Linked DNA regions of Homo sapiens. The protein of the gene in region 2 interacts with the protein of the main gene of each other region in a pairwise test. Each region holds a gene or a part of one and is shown on either strand. Other genes may lie near its edges. The genes, in order: EZR and SCYL3.

Evidence for each region.
Region 1: the proteins of SCYL3 (region 2) and EZR interact in binary tests that used the Homo sapiens proteins (3 or more experiments, as listed by UniProt).

What each region holds. Positions count from the first base shown.
Region 1 is NC_000006.12:158,767,076-158,770,894, reverse strand, and holds part of EZR (ezrin), read left to right. Parts: coding exon 1-131; intron 132-950; coding exon 951-1,111; intron 1,112-1,476; coding exon 1,477-1,569; intron 1,570-3,382; coding exon 3,383-3,634; intron 3,635-3,816; coding exon 3,817-3,819. UniProt on the Homo sapiens protein: Probably involved in connections of major cytoskeletal structures to the plasma membrane. In epithelial cells, required for the formation of microvilli and membrane ruffles on the apical pole. Along with PLEKHG6, required for normal macropinocytosis.
Region 2 is NC_000001.11:169,887,243-169,891,061, forward strand, and holds part of SCYL3 (protein-associating with the carboxyl-terminal domain of ezrin), read right to left. Parts: intron 1,649-3,819; 5' UTR 1,599-1,648; coding exon 1,434-1,598; exon of another isoform or gene 1,408-1,433; intron 1-1,407. UniProt on the Homo sapiens protein: May play a role in regulating cell adhesion/migration complexes in migrating cells.

The DNA.
Region 1 (3,819 bases), on a different chromosome or scaffold from region 2:
GCAACAGCTGGAAACAGAGAAGAAAAGGAGAGAAACCGTGGAGAGAGAGAAAGAGCAGATGATGCGCGAGAAGGAGGAGTTGATGCTGCGGCTGCAGGACTATGAGGAGAAGACAAAGAAGGCAGAGAGAGGTCAGGCGCCCTGGGGCTGGCACTCTACACTGGGTCATGCATTTCCACAGAGTAGCAGGGGCCACACCCACCCACCCACTCACCAGGAAGGAAACCAAGAACGTGTCCCACAGCGCAGACTCACAGCCGAAATGATAAAATGGTTATTTGGTTTGGAAAACAGTTCTGTACTTATTTAACTTTGATGCTAGTTGTTCTAAGACTTTGTATTTTAAAATTTCCCTAGTCTTTTGCGGTAAGTGCTCAATCACCCAGTTTCCCCGATGAGGACAGTAAGGTTTGGTGCGGTACAGTGATTTGCCCACAGTCCCCCAGCCCATGACTGACAGGGCCATGCTGCACTGCCCTCGACCTCTAGACTAAAACCCAAAGGCGTGTTCAGAGCCAGACTTCCCAGCACAGCTCCAGTCAACAACCCCAGCAGCTGGGCCGATTACACAAGGCGCCACAGATGCTGTATTCACTGGCAGCCCTTACAGCACACATGGGAAGGGTGTTCTGTGTTCTGAGTGGAGTGTGGACCACCAGCACAGCGGGCGGCTGACCTGGGGAGAGTAGCGCCAAGAGGGTTGAGTCAGGCATGCCAGAGAGAGGGCGCCTGGCTGGCGTTGGACGGGTTTCTAGCCATCTTGAGGAAGTTGTCATGGATACAGCAGCAATGAGCTCTGTGAAGTGCTTTCCTCCAGGGTCACTGGAAGACATCCCCTCAACCTGTGACTTGGTCTAGGGCTCTGTGGCTTTGGGGGTGGGAATGGAAAGCGAGGGCTCCTAGGTCCCTGGGCTGAGGGTTTGAATGGCTCTGGCTTTGTGTCTTTGCAGAGCTCTCGGAGCAGATTCAGAGGGCCCTGCAGCTGGAGGAGGAGAGGAAGCGGGCACAGGAGGAGGCCGAGCGCCTAGAGGCTGACCGTATGGCTGCACTGCGGGCTAAGGAGGAGCTGGAGAGACAGGCGGTGGATCAGATAAAGAGCCAGGAGCAGCTGGTAGGAATGGCCTGAGTTTCAAGATGCTGAATTATAGAGAGGCTGCTTCTGAGGATGGAAAATGTGACACCTGCCTTGTAATAATTGTCATGACTGGAAGCTGTAAACTGATCTGCTGGGGGGCTGAAGGCAGCTGGTGGGGAAGGGGCTGGGCTGTTGCCAGGGTCACCCATTGAAGGTGGGTGTGGGCATCCAGGAAGAGATGCCGGGGGTGCACAATGGACCCTGCTGGCCATGGAGTGGGGGTGGCGGGGACTCAGGTGTCACGTTGGAGACTGCTTGCCAACACACATGAACACTCATTCACAACTGGACTCCGTTGAAAGGATATCAGAACTGACGTGAGCTTGGCATTCCCTTCCCAGGCTGCGGAGCTTGCAGAATACACTGCCAAGATTGCCCTCCTGGAAGAGGCGCGGAGGCGCAAGGAGGATGAAGTTGAAGAGTGGCAGCACAGGGTGAGTCTGCACGGGGGACACCTCCGCACGGCCACAGCACCTGTTGCCCAATTGCCTGCGGTGGGGCCCTTCTGCAGGTGGGTGGGTTGGGGGAGAGGTCTGGCTCAAGCTGCCACATCCCACTGGAAGCTTCTGGGATGTCTCATGATCCTCTGCCAATACCAGCTGTACTACTGAAGTAGACATCCCCAAAGAGATGGGTTTGACTTTGTACACGAGTCAGTGCAGCTGCTGGATTCATAGAGGGAGGACCTCTGATTGACTTTCACCCACTTTGCTCCCTCCACCCCGAACTGTTCAGTGCTGATCTGACAGCCCCCGGTCAGGAACTGGTTTTAAATCTAATTATATATGTGCCCCTTGCAATGGGGTCGCAGTGCCTGAAACACGACCTCCTGCAGCTAGTATATACAGCGGGCACCATGGAAAGATCCAGCTCCTTGGACGTCTCCAGGCTGGAGTGAGAGCTGGGCTCTGCTGCTCATCAGCTATTTGGGGGCTAGTAGCATCACTTCTTCAAGCCTCATTTTCCTCATTGTAGAATGGGGGCAATACCCAACTCATAAGGTTGCTCTGCAGATGCGAGGTCCCATGCCCAGGACCTAGCACAGAGGTTTAGTCAGCTGTAGCTCTCATTGTGGGACGCACACAGAGCTTGTCGCTCCGTCTGGGATCCCCTGTGCCCTCCAGGAAGGCACAGCCCCTGAGAAGCTCTGGGGATGGTTCCCACTGGAGACTGCACACCAGGCTTTAAGCAGCTCCTCTCCTTCACAGACCCGCTGGCCCGTCCTTCCCCCACTGTGGCTTCTCCATCTGTGGAGGTGCCTTCTGGGGACGTGTCTCCCGGCTCTCCAGGGCTGCTGCTGCCTAGTACCTCCTTGCCTCTGTTCCAGCCCCCATTCCCGCTGCCGATCTGTATTAGGCTGTTCTCACAACGGCTATAAAGAACAAGCTGAGACTGGGTAGTTAAAGAAAAGAGGTTTAATTGACTCACAGTCCCACATGGCTGGGGGAGGCCTCAGGAAATTTACAATCGTGGCAGAAGGCGAAGGGGAAGCAGGCACCTCTTACATGAGGGCAGAAGAGAGAAAAGCAAAGGGGGGTAATGCCAAACACTGAAACCATCAGCTCTTGCTCAGAACCCACCCACTAGCACGAGAACAGCATAGGGGAAACCACCCCGTAATCCAGTCACCTCCCACCAGGTAATGCCCCCCACCCCCAGCATGGGGGGATTACAGGTGGAGATGAGATTTGGGTGGGGACACAGCCATATCACCATCCCAAGTTGCAAGCGGAAGACTTTGGTTCTTAGGTTTTTGGAGAAAGTACCTGTTAAGTGAGGAGAGCTGGCTACAAAGCAGATCCACACTAAGCTCAACTCTAGGGCTGGCTGGGATGGAGGCGGGCGGGACTGGGTGTGTGTGAAGCTGTTGGAAGGACTGCAAGTGGCGAGCAGGAGAGCACTTGATAATGACTGTGGCATGAAGGGAGGCTAGGAACAGAGCCCGTTACTCATGCTAACAGGATTTTTTTTCTAAAAATTATATAATGTCTAGAGTTACAGGTAAAAAAAGAAATGGTAGTTTTAAAACTGCCCAGGTTCCGGCATCACAGTTCCTCTTCCTGTCTTGGACGCAGAGGGTTGTAAACCCCCCATGCACCCTGAGGGTGCTCCTCTTCGAAGCCACAGCCCAGCACAGTTCAGTGCTGCCTTAGCCTGCCAGGACAGAGGGAGGTGACAGTCTGTTCTCATAGCCAGGAGGATAGGACTTCTGGGTGAGAAGTCCTCTTATTAATTTGCTTTCCAAAGGCCAAAGAAGCCCAGGATGACCTGGTGAAGACCAAGGAGGAGCTGCACCTGGTGATGACAGCACCCCCGCCCCCACCACCCCCCGTGTACGAGCCGGTGAGCTACCATGTCCAGGAGAGCTTGCAGGATGAGGGCGCAGAGCCCACGGGCTACAGCGCGGAGCTGTCTAGTGAGGGCATCCGGGATGACCGCAATGAGGAGAAGCGCATCACTGAGGCAGAGAAGAACGAGCGTGTGCAGCGGCAGCTGCTGGTGAGGCCCAAGGGGCTCTGTCTCCAGGGAGCCTGCCTCGCTTTTGGAGCAGACAGGCTTGGGGAGGGCAGTGATGTGAGCCAGCCCCACCCAGCACCCCTCTTGCCCTTCCTGTTTTCCTAGGGGACGGGCCGGGCCATATGGGGAGGAAGGGACTAGACCAATGCTGCTTAATGTTACAGACG
Region 2 (3,819 bases):
TATCTATGAATATTAAGGGGGAATAAGTCTTCCCTCTCAAGCTTCGCAATTCCTTCAGCACAGAAGTCCTCAAAAATGGAGAGTGGTCTTGCTGTTTTTTCCTTTAAAAACTCGATCTAGGTTATTCAATTTTCTTGGTACGTGCACCATAAAGTGTAACACAATTTTAAAAAAATCTTATAAAGAAAAAAATACTAAGAAAGATAAGTCTCTAGTACCTCGCCGATAATAGTTTATTAAAAAAAATGCACAATCTTATTAGATGAAAATAACAGGAGGCATGTTAGACATTAACTGTAAGAACAAGAAAGCGAAGTAAGGCATTTTGTCTTTTGTAAAATCACAATAAAAAATTCTTAACAATACCTAGATGATGTAAAAAAAGAGTCAAAAATGTGGTTCTACCAAAAAGCAAAATTACCTAGCAAGAAAACAGCCAGCTATATACTTTTTACCACCACGCATCTCGAGAGAACTGTTACCCATCTTTTTCTTTAGGAACCATCTTATAACAATTTCATGCTTGATCAAAAATACAACATCAAATAAATTACTGTTGTGAAGACCAAAATTCCATTACTAATATAATCCTTTATAATCATTTTAAAAAAATAAAAACAATTTAGAGTCCTATGAAACAGACATCAATGTTCCATACCTGTTGATAACTAAGGGACTCAAGGTAATAGAGATTATAATTCTAACAAAATCAAGATATCAAGTTCAACTTGAAAATAGCATGCCTACCAGAATAAACACTGGAGAATTAATTTACTAATACAATTACATTTTCCATTTTAGAAGATGATATATCTGAATTCCTAAATTTCCAAAGTGCTAGCTATCCAAAGAAGCATCAACTAATGCCTTCATTTTCCCTAATTCAAAAAGACACTTGGGGTTATTTTATTGACTTACATTCCACAGTAAAATCATTTTTTCTGATAAGAGGCCAGGATCTCCTGAGTGTGTCAGACAGCATGCTAATGCACTGGCACCCTCTGCCTGGAGCAACAATTATAAGGCATGAACTACAAGGATCTTTTCCCTAAGGAGGAAGCTGAAGCCTCCAGAATGATGTCAATACTTAACTGCATTTTGCTAGACGAGATTAACTCCTTATATAGCTCCTTATATCTTATATTAGCTACATAAAAATGTCTCCCTAACTTTCTCACCAGAAAAATAAAATATGATGATAAAAGCCATTGTACTGAGTTTTATGATGTTTTTTGGCTACAGGTATGGTACCTGACCATGTCATGCAAATGGAAGATAGGCCCATGAAGTAAGAGCAATGTTTTGAAAGGACATAAATAAAATACTGGTCCTTATGATCTTACCTCCTTTGAACTTTACTAATTTCATATTTTTTTAAAAGAAAACAAGATAGTAAAAAGTACTAACTATTAAGTCGTCACCTATTATGGTACCTTGGCAGCTTTATTAACCTTGTCTTCATTTTCTCTCTTATACACAAAAACTGAAGCAAATTTGCCATCTTGCAGTACAGCGGGATAAACAGCAAGTCCAGAGGGTAAGGTAAATGGTGGTTCTCTCAGTGTATAGCTCTTTAAAGCACTGTTCTCTGATCCCATCCCTTATGCAGTGAGGCAGTACTGCCACTCTTCCTCAAAGCCAAGCAGATCTAAAAGAAAACAGAAAACAATTTCAAACATTAAATCCCTATCTGCAACATCAACAAGAGATATCCAGACATAGCCACCCCAAACTACTAGTTTCTTTGATCCTCATAACTAGGACATTTGACAGTAAAAATGGTAAACGCTCTGCAAGTTACCAGCAATGGTTGTTAATTAACAACTAACAGCTCTAGAGAAAATGCACATTACTAAATAGTCACAGGTAGTTACTGTCCCTCCCCAAACTCCACCACATACAAACTTTCAGAGTGGAAAGGCAATCAAAAATAGAATAAGGTAATTCATACTTCCTAACTCACTTGTATATCCTCACTCACAAAGGAAAATGTTGTAAAAATATTACTCAAAAACAATAAAACTTCTGTATGTAGAAAATAACTTAAAATTATAAAGGAAAACAATACAAATTGGAGAATACTTATAATGAGGAAAATCATGGTTTTAATATTAATATGTTGAAAAACATTGTTAATATGATGAAAAACATATTAACAAATGAAGAGCTCATATAAACCAAGTAAAACACTAAAACACCAGTACAATAATGGGAAAGAAAACAGACAACTCATTGAAGAAACACAAATGACGATAAACATAAGAAAAAGTACGATCGCACTACTCTTCAAAGCTATCCTAAGTAAAAAGGGGAAACCGCAAAACTGAATCTCAAATAATCTCAATTGCTAAAAAAAAACAAAAGCCCACACATACACAGAATTCAAATGCAACTATGACAAAATACTTCAGTGCTCACCTAGTGAAGGGGCACAGTTAGAGGGATCAAGGGAGAGGAAAGGATTATCATGATGTATGAGGAACTTTTGGGAGGATGGATATATTCATTATCTTGATGATGATGATGGTAACGGGTGATTATGTCAAAACATAAAACTGTACACTTTTTTCATTTATTCTGTATCAATTACGCCTCAAAGTTGTTTTGAAAAGAAATATATGTATACATACACACAGACTTGAAAAATATATGTTGAAGTATTAACAGAGGTTTCCAGTGGAAGGTCAGATTATAGGTAATTTTATACACACACACTTGCCTGCACCTTCCAAATCTTCTACAATATGAACAGCTTTCTTGACAACAGGGATACAAACTCACAGGGTGACAACAGGTAATGTGCAGTGCCCCAGCAGTACTGGCAGCCTGGCAGAGGGACCTACTGTGCGTGCATGGGACCTACTGTGAGAGGCTTGCATTCTGAAGACAGTGGCTATCACAGAGTTCCAACCAGGACTGCAGTTTCAGAACTGTCAGATCATGCCACTTATCGTGAGGAACCAAGAGCCTGAATAGTTTTGTGGAAATCTCCATATTTTTCAATGTTGAATCAAATGTTTTCTAAACCTATATAGGCCAAACAACGTATGTCTGAAAAATCTGTGGCAGTCAGTTTTCAGTGGTGGCTTTACCATAATATAAAAATTAGAAAATAGAGTTCTTACTAACTCTGGCAATGTAGAAAGCAAACTGCTACAAATACGGCCAATAATTCTATGTAGGCCTTTAAAAATTTGTTTAAAATCTGTATTCTTTGGACAAATATAAACTCAATAATCATTACACATTGACCCTCTACTTGGAATTTTTCCCCACTTCGGTGAAATTCCATACAACACCTTCTACACTGGGTATGTAATGCTGCTCAAAACACATGCCTAGAACAAAATTTAAAGTGCCTACCGATCCACAACCATCGTTATATAAGAAACACATGTATAAAGGCTAAAGCTATCTAAAATTGAAGATTTTCAAAATCTAAAAATGTTGCTGAGAATAAGAACTAAATCTGCTTTGTAACAAATTCACTGAATTCCTACCTACCTGGCAATGTATCTTTCTTAAAAATGACAGAGAAGCAAAAAACAGTACTAAAAGAAATGCCAAGTATGGCAACTATGGTAACATTCACCTTTCTACTGGGACTACAAATAAAAAGTTTATGTGGGACCATGGGTAAAAGCAACAATGCTAATCCCTCTGTTCTGGAGATAGAGTGCTGGCCAGATTGTCACAACCTCCTGCTGAGTAGGGAGGATTATGCTTAGCACTTGATCTTGCCACCTCTTCTTGGGCACAGTTAATGTTGGCAGGTACCTATCCTGGGCCAAAGGGCGGTTAATTCACAAATTAGCCATC